Regions from separate parts of the Homo sapiens genome. Here regions 1 and 3 are each reported to be linked to region 2. The links are microRNA targets in miRTarBase. Many come from high-throughput screens and were not tested one by one. Region 2 holds a microRNA gene; each other region holds the end of a gene's coding sequence.

Evidence for each region. The annotated mature microRNA hsa-let-7a-2-3p reads CUGUACAGCCUCCUAGCUUUCC and lies in region 2 at 1,610-1,631, opposite strand. An mRNA with a match to its seed (bases 2 to 7 or 8) in the 3' UTR can be bound and repressed. Matches are read on the target gene's strand: a 7mer-m8 pairs with bases 2 to 8, a 7mer-A1 pairs with bases 2 to 7 and ends in A, and an 8mer does both.
Region 1: miRTarBase lists TP53INP1 as a target of hsa-let-7a-2-3p. Seed matches in the 3' UTR shown: 7mer-m8 at 1,200-1,206.
Region 3: the mRNA of FKBP14 is a reported target of hsa-let-7a-2-3p. Seed matches in the 3' UTR shown: 7mer-A1 at 2,496-2,502 and 7mer-m8 at 4,180-4,186.

What each region holds. Positions count from the first base shown.
Region 1 is chr8:94,927,028-94,931,274 of GRCh38, reverse strand. It overlaps TP53INP1 (tumor protein p53 inducible nuclear protein 1), which reads left to right. Exons shown (of 4, transcript NM_033285.4): 4 at 547-4,247. The coding sequence ends at 796. It also overlaps a transcript of NDUFAF6 not described here. Among named protein-coding and RNA genes, the nearest start is that of TP53INP1, 20 kb to the left of the region's middle.
Region 2 is chr11:122,144,914-122,149,164 of GRCh38, forward strand. It overlaps MIRLET7A2 (microRNA let-7a-2), which reads right to left and starts at 1,680; the gene lies at 1,609-1,680. The region is part of intron 4 of MIR100HG (mir-100-let-7a-2-mir-125b-1 cluster host gene); the gene reads right to left.
Region 3 is chr7:30,011,344-30,015,594 of GRCh38, reverse strand. It overlaps FKBP14 (FKBP prolyl isomerase 14), which reads left to right. Exons shown (of 4, transcript NM_017946.4): 4 at 702-4,251. The coding sequence ends at 860. The region is part of intron 2 of FKBP14-AS1 (FKBP14 antisense RNA 1); the gene reads right to left. Among named protein-coding and RNA genes, the nearest start is that of FKBP14, 13 kb to the left of the region's middle.

The sequences.
Region 1 (4,247 bases), not on the chromosome of region 2:
GAGTAGAATTTCCATATGCAAATTTCTATTAAATAAAGATTTAAAGCATGTTTCCTGGAACATTTTACTTATAGACAGGAAATGTCTTGTGAAGGTATTGTGAGCACACTGCTTTCTGATCAGTAAAATTTGGGAATTAAAATATTTTCCTTTTAAGATTATGGTGAGAATTAAAATATATATTTGCAAAAGAATTGGCAAATGCAGATATTCAATAAATGTTAGCTCCCCTCCCAGACAAGCTTATATAAATGTGTGTGCTCCGTAAATGAAATTCAAAGTTTAAAGTGTATTTTTAGAAAACAGTCTACTTAGTGAGCCATCTGGGGCTTATATGGCATCTTTCTAGTAACAGTTGGCTCTCCTTTCCACCACTATCAGTCAGTGGGGTCACAGAATAATAAACTTGTCTGTCAGCCATGAAACACAAGCTCTCATTCAGCCATAAACAAATTAGCGTGGCAAATTGAATTGCTAAGTAACTTTTCCAGTTTTGTTAATAACATACTCTGTTATTTAATACATCCCCACTTTTTTCTGTTTCAGAGTGGAAGCTCAAAATGAAATGGGGCAGCATATTCATTGTTATGTTGCAGCTCTTGCTGCTCATACAACTTTTCTGGAACAACCCAAGAGCTTTCGCCCTTCCCAGTGGATAAAAGAACACAGTGAAAGACAGCCTCTTAACAGAAATAGCCTTCGTCGCCAAAATCTTACCAGGGATTGCCACCCTCGGCAAGTCAAGCACAATGGCTGGGTTGTTCATCAGCCCTGCCCGCGTCAGTACAATTACTAATAGTTTCAAGTTTTGTTGGTTGGTTTCTCTTGGTTTGTGCTTACATGTATGGATGTGTGTATATGTACAGTGAAAATGTTGTCTCTTTACAACCAATTGATAACCAATCACATAGTTTTATCAGTGTATTTAGACACTATCTTGAAAATCAGATTTATATGCTGTGTATCACATAATGCCTTGCCTTTAACATTTACTTTTTTTGTACACTTTTTCAGATTATTTCTGGAAACATATCAATATAATTACAGTGTTTGGGGGTGTCTTTAAATATATTAGGTTATACATTAGTCAGCATTTTAAAGACATTTCTTCCCAAGTACGAGAATAGGCATCTTTCATTTTCATTTTATTTTGTATTACTTAATCTTTTAAGCAAGCAAAAATTTATTCTCAGGGTCAGCTGTACACTTTATTGACCAGTACTTGATAATCTCTCTGTATATGATGAATACATTTTTACACACTAACATTAGCATTAACAGGTGATAGTTGCCATGGATATAATGGAATTATGGCTGGACTTTCTTTTGAAAGAAAACTTGATGTATTCTGTGTGTATGGTTTTTCCCCAGATTAGTCATACAGTTCATTTGGAATTCAGGTACATTAAGCTTTAGTGAAGAGTGCATGCAGTAATTCCAATGTGACTGCATGACGTGGTACAGACATTACAGGTGTTGTAGACAGAGGCACTTGTCTCGTGCAGAGGGATTAAATTAGACCTGTGAGATTATATTTGGAAAAATTCATGTCTGTAACTAACCCATTAGTGCAGTATTTAATTTGTTACTATTCCTTCCCGCCAATTCTGTCCACTCCTCACCTCGCATCAGCTATAAATTTGGAAGTACTTGTCCAGGCACTCAAGTGACTTCATATTTCTCTCTGCCCATGGGAAAAGAGATAGGCTTTATATTTCCACAGAGTGAAAAATCCTCTGTCATGGAGCCTGTCCTGCCAAGTGGCAAGAGTGTGGGGACTGTCTGGTGATGATGTCTTTCATGGCATCTGAGTGAAGAGTGACAGGTTGGCTCAACTTTTTTCTTTTTTTTTTTTTAATTGCCTTGTATTGTAAGTATTCTTCCCTGCAGTCCAAGTGACTTTTCATTTTTTGTTTTAACTTCAGGCAAAATCTTTAACCACTCTGGCCTCTGTTTCCCCCACCAACGGGGAGCAGTGACATTTACCTCCCTCACAGAGTCACTGTGAGGATTCTATACTGATTTGAAGTGGAGCTGTTCAGAACTGAACCTTGTAGGAAATTCCAAGGGCCTTTCTACTGAATCTGGTGATGGGGTGGGGCCGTGGCACTTTCTCTGCCACAGCTGTTCTTCACAGTGTTGGTGCTAATGAGGCCAGGGTGCAGGGTTCGATTCACACGTAGGCCAGTTAACTTAGAGAAAATCTATTTCCTTACCTCTAGCCAGTCACTTCCTTTTTCCGCAGTTGTGATGGGTTTTGCTGAGCCATCCACTCTGACTGATTTCCTCTGAAGTAAACATATTTACAATCCAAAGCAATTCTACTGACAGAAGTGTTGCCTTCATAATCAAACAGCTTGTTTTTCCATCTCCTCTGCAACCCTAATTAAATGAGTACAGGTCTACAAAATGTTTTCAAGGAGAAAAGCAGCATATCCTTAAGTGAAGTATTATATTTTTCAATAACCCTGTAGTGGCTTGATGCAGGGAACCCTGGGGGACTTTCAGCGAAGAGCTGTGCTCTTTTCTGACTAGATTAGAGCGTTTGGAGTGGAAGACGTCAAATGTGTAGTGAGATGGAGGTTTTACATTGTTCTTCTACTGGCTGTGATGAAGTGCCAGAATGTCTCTTTAGAACAAGAGTTAGATTCCCCCTTTCTCCTTATTGCCCCTTCCGTTTTGACTTCCCCTTTATTTATTTGTTGTCTAATTAGGGGCCAAGTCTGTAAAGTTTTGTCAAAGTGAGTTAGAAGTTGTTTTCTCTTACTATTTGTGTTTACCAGAGTTGGGAGATAAGATAGTTTCCATGAAGGTGTGTATGTTTTATACGATGTTTGTTATAGGGCCATGCATTGGTAACTTGAAAATAGACCAGCTTAATGTCTTCAGGATGTAAAACTCTGAATACACGGCGTCTCTTTTTCATACATTGCATGTAAGTTGTTAGTACCTCACAAGCTACAGAAGTTCAGCCATGAGATTTTGTTTGGCAACATGAACAGATTTGTGTATAACTGCAATGGCCTTTTTTTCCAGATTTCCTTATTGACTTTTTGTTTGCCTTACCTGGGGCTAGTTTTTTATGCTTTGTACCTAGAAAACAAAAAATTACATTCGTTGGGCTTTTTTTCAAGGTTGGGATTACCACACCACCTGGAATATCATACTGTGGTTTCTGCCTAAAATTGGCACATGTAAGTATTGAAGAAAATGGTTATATAATTCAGTTGAAACTCTTGGTTATTAGATGTTAGGCATCTCCTGTATGTAAGACACAAGGCCAACCACAACACAGAACGATGTTGACCTGTTAAGTATTCTCTGAAACATGGCCAAAATGCATTTTATGAGCTTTTTTTTTTGCTATTGTAAATATTAGTGGTTTACAATGCGCTTTAGACATATTTCTTTAAAATGCAAGCAGTGAGAAATAAGACCTCTCTGAATTAGTAGCTCTAAACTGTTAACATAGAATGTTACTTGGAAAAAGTCTGGAATATGTGGTGTACACAAGCAGTGCTTCGTGAATGAGTTTCTTAGCTTTTATAGTGCGCCATGTTTCTCAAAGTTTGTTTTTGTTGACAAAACATTTTATAATATATATCTTATGTTTATTTTTTTTCTCAACTAATTGTGTACTGCACTGTAAGGTGAAAATTAGCCATCCATTATTTATCTTCTGTGGCAATGCATTTATATGGTTGATTGGGTGGGGAATTTTTTGCAGAAAGATGCAAAGTGATTGGGTTTTCGACTTCCTATCGCAGGGAGCTTTTAAGAAATATTAATTTCCTATACATTTTTCCAATCCCCATGCAAACTGTTCCTGTTTACATACCTTCTCTGTTGTATCAGTACTTTGAGTGAGAAGACAGTTTATTTAAAACTTGAGCAGGCTGTTCAGCATTGTTTCTGCTTCTGAAATCTGTATAGTACACTGGTTTGTAATCATTATGTCTTCATTGAAATCCTTGCTACTTCTCTTCCTCCTCAATGAAATACATTATATATTATCTTTATGTACTCTTAAGAAAAACGAGCAAGGAAGAGTATCTTCATTATTCTCATTTTCTCTGAGTTGGAAACAAAAACATGAAGGACTCCAACTAGAAGACAGATATTTACATTTAAATAGATTAGTGGGAAAACTTTAAGAGTTTCCACATATTAGTTTTCATTTTTTGAGTCAAGAGACTGCTCCTTGTACTGGGAGACACTAGTAGTATATGTTTGTAATGTTACTTTAA
Region 2 (4,251 bases):
AGTATGCTTAATGTTAAACTCATAATAAATGTCACAAAGTAATGACAGCATCTTCTAAAGCAAGGCATAGTCCCTTCTAAAGAATGAAAGAATGAGCTAAGAAATAAAGACGGCACAGCAGCCTTTGAGTCTTGCTCCTAGTTCTGCTGCAGAGTACCAGGGTGGTTTCAAAGTAACATCGAACCTTCAGCCGTGCTTCTTTATGACATGGGGCTAGTTATTCTTGACCTCTTAGTAACATGACAATCACTGGTGGTAATTCACCATAAAAATATTTGAGCATAGAATCAAAATCCTGACACAGGGAATTTCATCTTTTCTTTGAGGTAGCTGAGAGAGAGAGAGAGAGAGAAACTATAACTACAGACTGCATAACCATTTCCTTTGACATATTTTGTACATTAAACTACCAGAAAATAATAAAATGGACTAAATACCTCATTATGTACCTTCTGACTACCCATCTGTATTTTCTACTGAAAAGTATCCAGACATGGAACAACTAACTCCTTCCTAATTGACAGATCTGGATTTGAGTGCTGGTTTGGCTGCTCATATGCTCTTTGTAGATTGTGGGATTTCCATCTAAGACAGGTAAAATGTCTGTTGTTCATGACATTGGTTATCACTATGAAATGACCAAGTTTATGCTTTGAGATAATCAATCTCTACATTATTACTATTCCAGTCTTTTGGTATTTTTCCATAGAAGTTTTCATAGAGGTTGGCTAGAGCATATCTCAATAAGAGGGATATAAAATTGCATTCAAAGACCAGCTTAGCCTAAAACCCAAAATGTGAATTCCAAAACATGGCTCTTTATCTTGGAAACTTCCTTGAGTGGAGAGTACAAAATTCTTTTAATTTGATGATATCTAAGAAAGTGCAATACAGTTGCAAAAAAACAGCCCCAATTTGTAATGCCTTCCTGAGTTCATGTCCTTTGCCATGAAACTTTGTAGTAGTGGCCACTCTGCCTTCAGGATTGGCCATGTGGCTTCCTTTGACCAATGAGATATTAGCAAATACAAAGCAGGCAGAAGCTTGTAAGATCCTTAAGTCACTTGGCTTGTCCTTGTTCTTATTCCTCTGCCTTTACCATAAGAATGTGCTAGAACTAATCTGTTGTCAGATGTGACACATAGCACAGAAATTAGCTGCCCCCATCAATCTAGTGACCCCATCTTAGAGCTGACAGCCAGAAGAAATGAGCCCAGGCAAGACCAGAAAACCTGTGTAAATCACAGATACACAGACTCATGAGCTAAATATGCATTTATTGTATGCCACTGAGGCTTTGTAGTGTTTATTATGCAGCATTTTTTTGTGACAATGCTGCATTTTTTGTGACAATTTGGTGTTTATTATGCAGCATTTTTGTGACAATGGACACCTGATATACTGAATCCCTCAAAGCCTCACATTTTTCTTAAAACAAAATCTAACCCGAGGAAACAGAATATGAAAATACAGCATGGGTACAAGGATTAAACAAAACTTGAATTCTAAAATACCATAAAATAATCGTACCCAATCTTACCTTTCATAGGGAGAAAAGGCCTGGAGGAATCATGATCGTTCTCACCATGTTGTTTAGTGCAAGACCCAAGGAAAGCTAGGAGGCTGTACAGTTATCTCCCTTGATGTAATTCTAAACTATACAACCTACTACCTCAACCTGGGAGCATGCAGTCACAATGGCTGGAAAACTACCATTTCTTAAGCAGGGAAATTACAAGTTAGTCTTATAATGATTCATCGTGCTGTCACCTATTTGGGCCATTCATAAGAGACAACATATCAAAGAGTCTGATGATAGAAGAGATAACACAAAAACCTTGGCTTGAGATTACCATGAAAACATGAAGGGAGCAAATACTTGGGACTGGCCTTCTTGAACTATTTGTGCATGGAAATTATAGTAATGTTACATAATGGTGATTCTGAACAATTTAATGCCTTCTGATATCTGTTGACGAAATAGAATAGTAGAACAATATTTAAACTTGGGCAATTAAAAAAAGATTAGAAAAATAAATGTTCCTCTGGTAAAACTGAAAAACTGGAATCACTAAAAGATGGATATATAAGAAGAAATGGCTTAAACCAAAACACAGTGAAAAGACATAGAAAACATGATTCTGAGCAAAATACAGATTAAGAAATACCGCAAAAGCTATATTGAACATCCACCCAACAATATTTATCATGTATTTTACATAATTCTCATATTTAGAAAGTGCTCCTTTTTCCAGAGTTGACTGTTTCAGCATTTCTCATAAATCTGTCCCCAACAGTCTATTCAACAACCTACAAAATGTGCCTATTTCCCTGTTTGCACTTGTAATTTTTTTTTTTTCCAAGACAGAGTCTTGCTCTGTCACTCAGGCTAGAGTGCAGTGCTGCGATCTTGGCTCACTGCAACTTCTGCCTCCCTGGTTCAAGTGATTCTTCTGCCTCAGCCTCCTGAGTAGCTGGAATTACAGGAGTGTGTCACCATGCCCGGCTAATTTTTGTATTTTTAGTAGACACGGGGTTTCACCATGTCGGCCAGGCTGGTCTCAAACTCCTGACCTTGTGATACACCCACCTCATAATTTTAAACTGAATCTTTCTTGTATCTTCAGTCCCAGGCAGGTGCTGGAGCAGGAGATAGGCTCCTACAAGCTTAGCAACTTCTCATTTCTATGTAAACTCAAGTTTGGTCAGGTCTATATTTTCCCACAAGGACTGCTCTGTGGTCTATCAGAAGCCACCTCTCCTCATTGCTTAGCTGGACTCTGGTTTTGCCCAGTAAAGGCTGTGCTACAAAGGAGCTAGGTCAGCCTAGGCAAATAGAGATGGAGGCACATCTGAGCACACTGAGAATCTTCCTGATACTTCTACTGCACTGATCGTGTTCAAAAGACAGATTCAAATGCCATAGCATTGATGTTTCTTCATGTTATTCCACTAGCCTGGAGAAAAGTGATTTTTTTTCCAATGTTTCCAACCCTATTTCCTTATGCTTTGATGAGGTGAAACTGCTTTTTTTGGGGGGCGGAGCGGGGGGGCTGCCTCTGTTAGATCAAGGCTACCTAGTTTGGGAGAAAGACTGGGAGGTTAGTTTTATCAAAAAAAAAAAAAAACTCTCATTCATCCTTCAAGCCTCATTTGAAAGAGTTCTTCCTCTGATTATCTCACAATTTCATATATGCATTTATGCTTTAATTCTCACATCATTGCATTATAGTTTATCTGTTTGTCTCATTCGCTGGACCCCAAGCTATGTGAAAATGGGACCCCATAATTCACCTTTGCCAATCTGGTATTATCTGCAATGGCGAGTAGATGGCACATATAGAAATTTAAAAAAAAAAAAAAACTTTGTCAAATGAAAAGAAGAATATATGCATAAATGGATAAATGGGAGTATAAATGAACTTACAGTTAAGGGATGATCATTTTTATTTTTATGTCCAATCCTTTGTTCTTCCACTTATGTTAGAATTTCACTCATAGTAAGATGGATTTGCTATTAAGATTCCAGAGAGGGCAAAAAATCAGAGTGGCTGAATTCAACCTGGCCGGTTTAACCTTAAATCCCAGATCTCCTATGGAAACTCAAGATGTATTTCCAAGTCTTCTGCTACTAGATGCTCACTTATGTAGAAGATTTAACACTTACTGTGACCAAAAAAGAATATATAATTCATTTTCTTTCCTCTTAATTTGAATTTTTTCATTCACCTTGCAGTGACACTGTGCCTGACTCTGTAAGCACAATCACGATATATAACCCTTATGAATGGGACACAAGGCAGGGGAAGGGCAGTAAGTGTTGACAAAGGAAGACACAACAAAGAGAGGATAAGATCCATGTGCTAGAGTGCTAGTCAATCAGCCACAACATACAGTTCAGAGGGCTTTTAAATACCCAGAAATGGAAAAATTGATCTTTTTCCATGTACGTTCTTATTCTGGGGGTCAAAGATATAAAGATGCTGCTCTTAGAATACTAATGGTTTTCAATACCCTGCTCTTTTGGTTGTGAATTTCCTTGTTTATTTACACTGATTTTAGCCCATTATCATGTATTAGTGCAATTATGGCTCATTACATAATTAGTGTAAATATTTGTAGGCATGTAATAACAACATGCAATTATGATATGGAATGATGTCATAAAAATTCTTATCGAAAAGTACGAGTGAAAAATAAAACAAGAAGTAGTATTTATAGGTGAACAACAGTAGTATATCTTCAGGTAGA
Region 3 (4,251 bases), not on the chromosome of region 2:
GTATTTAGATTCAGATTAAGAACAAGTAGTATGCTCTCATTGGGTATTCTCCAATAATATAAGCCCTATATGAGGATTGTATACATGACATAAGCTTTATCTCTGCCTTTGAGCAATATATATATAGAGAGAGCTATATATATATATATATTTTTAATTTTTTAATTTTTTATTTTTTTGACAGAGTCTCACTCTGTTGCCCAGGCTGGAGGGCAGCAGCGCAATCTCGATTCACTGCAACCTCTGCCTTCCAGGTTCAAGCGATTCAACTGCCTCAGCCTCCTGAATAGCTGGGATTACAGACGCATGCCATCATGCCTGGCTAACTTTTTTTTGTATTTTTAGTGGAGATGGGCTTTCATTATGTCGGCCAGGCTGATCTCCAACTCCTGACCTCAAGCAATCTTCCCACTTGGGCCTCCCAAAGTGCTGGGATAACAGGCATGAGCCACCACACCTGGCCCTGCCTTTGAGCAATATTTTGTGTCTCCACTTTAGCAGTTTAGCAACAGTTTTTTTAAGGGAAAAAGTTTCTATTATTTTTTAATTATCATTAAAACTATGTCATAAAATGGCTGTTTAGAAGGTATTATATTTAGTTAATGAACTAAATATAATAACAGTCCATGTCTGTGATATTGATTGGCTCAATGTGGGTATCTTATGAATCCAAGTTATTAATGGGATCTGTTATTTTGTAGGTTAAAGCATATTTAAAGAAGGAGTTTGAAAAACATGGTGCGGTGGTGAATGAAAGTCATCATGATGCTTTGGTGGAGGATATTTTTGATAAAGAAGATGAAGACAAAGATGGGTTTATATCTGCCAGAGAATTTACATATAAACACGATGAGTTATAGAGATACATCTACCCTTTTAATATAGCACTCATCTTTCAAGAGAGGGCAGTCATCTTTAAAGAACATTTTATTTTTATACAATGTTCTTTCTTGCTTTGTTTTTTATTTTTATATATTTTTTCTGACTCCTATTTAAAGAACCCCTTAGGTTTCTAAGTACCCATTTCTTTCTGATAAGTTATTGGGAAGAAAAAGCTAATTGGTCTTTGAATAGAAGACTTCTGGACAATTTTTCACTTTCACAGATATGAAGCTTTGTTTTACTTTCTCACTTATAAATTTAAAATGTTGCAACTGGGAATATACCACGACATGAGACCAGGTTATAGCACAAATTAGCACCCTATATTTCTGCTTCCCTCTATTTTCTCCAAGTTAGAGGTCAACATTTGAAAAGCCTTTTGCAATAGCCCAAGGCTTGCTATTTTCATGTTATAATGAAATAGTTTATGTGTAACTGGCTCTGAGTCTCTGCTTGAGGACCAGAGGAAAATGGTTGTTGGACCTGACTTGTTAATGGCTACTGCTTTACTAAGGAGATGTGCAATGCTGAAGTTAGAAACAAGGTTAATAGCCAGGCATGGTGGCTCATGCCTGTAATCCCAGCACTTTGGGAGGCTGAGGCGGGCGGATCACCTGAGGTTGGGAGTTCGAGACCAGCCTGACCAACACGGAGAAACCCTATCTCTACTAAAAATACAAAAGTAGCCGGGCGTGGTGATGCGTGCCTGTAATCCCAGCTACCCAGGAAGGCTGAGGCGGCAGAATCACTTGAACCCGGAGGCGGAGGTTGCGGTAAGCCGAGATCACCTCCAGCCTGGACACTCTGTCTCGAAAAAAAGAAAAGAAACACGGTTAATAACATATAAATATGTATGCATTGAGACATGCTACCTAGGACTTAAGCTGATGAAGCTTGGCTCCTAGTGATTGGTGGCCTATTATGATAAATAGGACAAATCATTTATGTGTGAGTTTCTTTGTAATAAAATGTATCAATATGTTATAGATGAGGTAGAAAGTTATATTTATATTCAATATTTACTTCTTAAGGCTAGCGGAATATCCTTCCTGGTTCTTTAATGGGTAGTCTATAGTATATTATACTACAATAACATTGTATCATAAGATAAAGTAGTAAACCAGTCTACATTTTCCCATTTCTGTCTCATCAAAAACTGAAGTTAGCTGGGTGTGGTGGCTCATGCCTGTAATCCCAGCACTTTGGGGGCCAAGGAGGGTGGATCACTTGAGATCAGGAGTTCAAGACCAGCCTGGCCAACATGGTGAAACCTTGTCTCTACTAAAAATACAAAAATTAGCCAGGCGTGGTGGTGCACACCTGTAGTCCCAGCTACTCGGGAGGCTGAGACAGGAGATTTGCTTGAACCCGGGAGGCGGAGGTTGCAGTGAGCCAAGATTGTGCCACTGCACTCCAGCCTGGGTGACAGAGCAAGACTCCATCTCAAAAAAAAAAAAAGAAGCAGACCTACAGCAGCTACTATTGAATAAATACCTATCCTGGATTTTAAAAAAGAAAAAAATATATATAATTTTATTTTAAATTGGCTTTTATCTTTAATTCTTTTTTTTAAAGTTATCAAATCTTCATTTTCTAAGAGTAGCCCTTTATAGTGTACAAAATGATATTAAGTGCATTATTATCTTCGCTTTTCATGGCTCTGAGTCATAAAACAAGCTGGTGGATCTCACTGTACCTAATTTATAGACGAGGAAATTGTCATTCAAAAAGATTGACTGTTATGCCCAGGGTCAGCACTAACCTGCAGAACCAGTATTCAGTCCCCAAGTTCAGTGTCTTCTACTGCCCTCTACTAATGAAAAGTGAAAATTTCCCTGGGGTCTAATTCTCTCTTCAGTTTGCTGTGCCGTTGTTTATCTTTGAGTCTTCATTCTCTGAAGATGGCTTTCTGCCTGTTTCTGGTACATTAGAATTCTCACTATGATATAGAAATGGCTTCAGTTTCATAGCATAATCTTGCAGTTAGCTCTGAATTGCCTCAAAAACCCTGAACAACGCGAGGTTCCAGATGTGTTTTACTTCTTTCATTCATATTTACCCCCATTTGTTGTTTAAAAAGAATTATGAACAATTATTACATCATATGTAGACCACTTTCACTGATTATATGTTGACATTTTCCTCAGTAAAACATAAAGTTCTTAACAAGACTATACTGTAACACCTTTCTCCAACAAAATCAGCTGTATGTTGAAAACTATTAAGTCATTGCTAATGTTTTAAGCCATAATACAGACAGCCTTATACTCTATGATGGGAGAAGGGAAAGTAGTTTGTCCGATGGTGCTACTCTGTATAAACATTACTGATGCTATCTATAGTAGGGCAAGAAAAGTAAAAAGAGTTTTGATTATTCAGGCAGCATTTTTAAAAACCTGTGAATTTGTATCAGTTCTCATCTAAACATTTGGACACAAGTATAAAATGAAAACATATGCACAAGTTATGGTTTTTAAGTTATCTGCTCTTTTTTTTGGTTTCACTGTACCTTTGTACTCTTCTATTAGTGGGAATAATCAGACATGAACTGTGACTTCACATGTACAGTCATACCTCACTTAATGATGGAGATGCACTCTGAGAAATGTCTAATTAGGTTATTTCATCGTTGTGGGAACATCATAGAGTGTACTTACACAAACCTAGATAGTGTAGCCTGCTACACATGTAGGACATGTATATAGCCTATTGCTCCTAGGCTACAGCATGTTGCTGTTCTGAATCATGTAGGCAATTGTAACACAATGGCAAGTGTCTGTTTATTCAAACATCTAAACACAGAAAAGATACTACAACAATAACAATATGGTATAAAAGATTTTGTAAAAAATCTGGTCAGGTGCAGTGGTTCACGCCTGTAATCCTAGCACTTTGGGAGGCTGCCTCAGCAGGTGGATTGCTTGAGCCCAGAAGCTCAAGACCAGCCTGGGCAACATGGCGAAACCCCGTCTCTGCTAAAAGTACAAAAGCTGAGGTTGGAGGATCACCTGAGCCTGGCAAGGTCAAGGCTGCAGTGAGCCATGATCATACCACTGCACTCCAGCCTGGGTGACAGAGTGACTCCCCATCTAAAAAAAAAAATATATATATATATATATACTATATATATATATATACCATATATATGGTATATATATATATAGTATATATATATATGGTGTGTGTATATATATATATATGGTATACCTGTATAGGGCACTTACTAACGGAGCTTACAGAACTGGAAGTTGCTCTGGATGAGTCAGTGGTGAGTGAATGTAAAGGCCTAGGACATTACTGTACACTACTGTAGACTTTATAAACACCGTACACTTAGGTGACACTAAAATTTATAAAAAATGTTTTTCT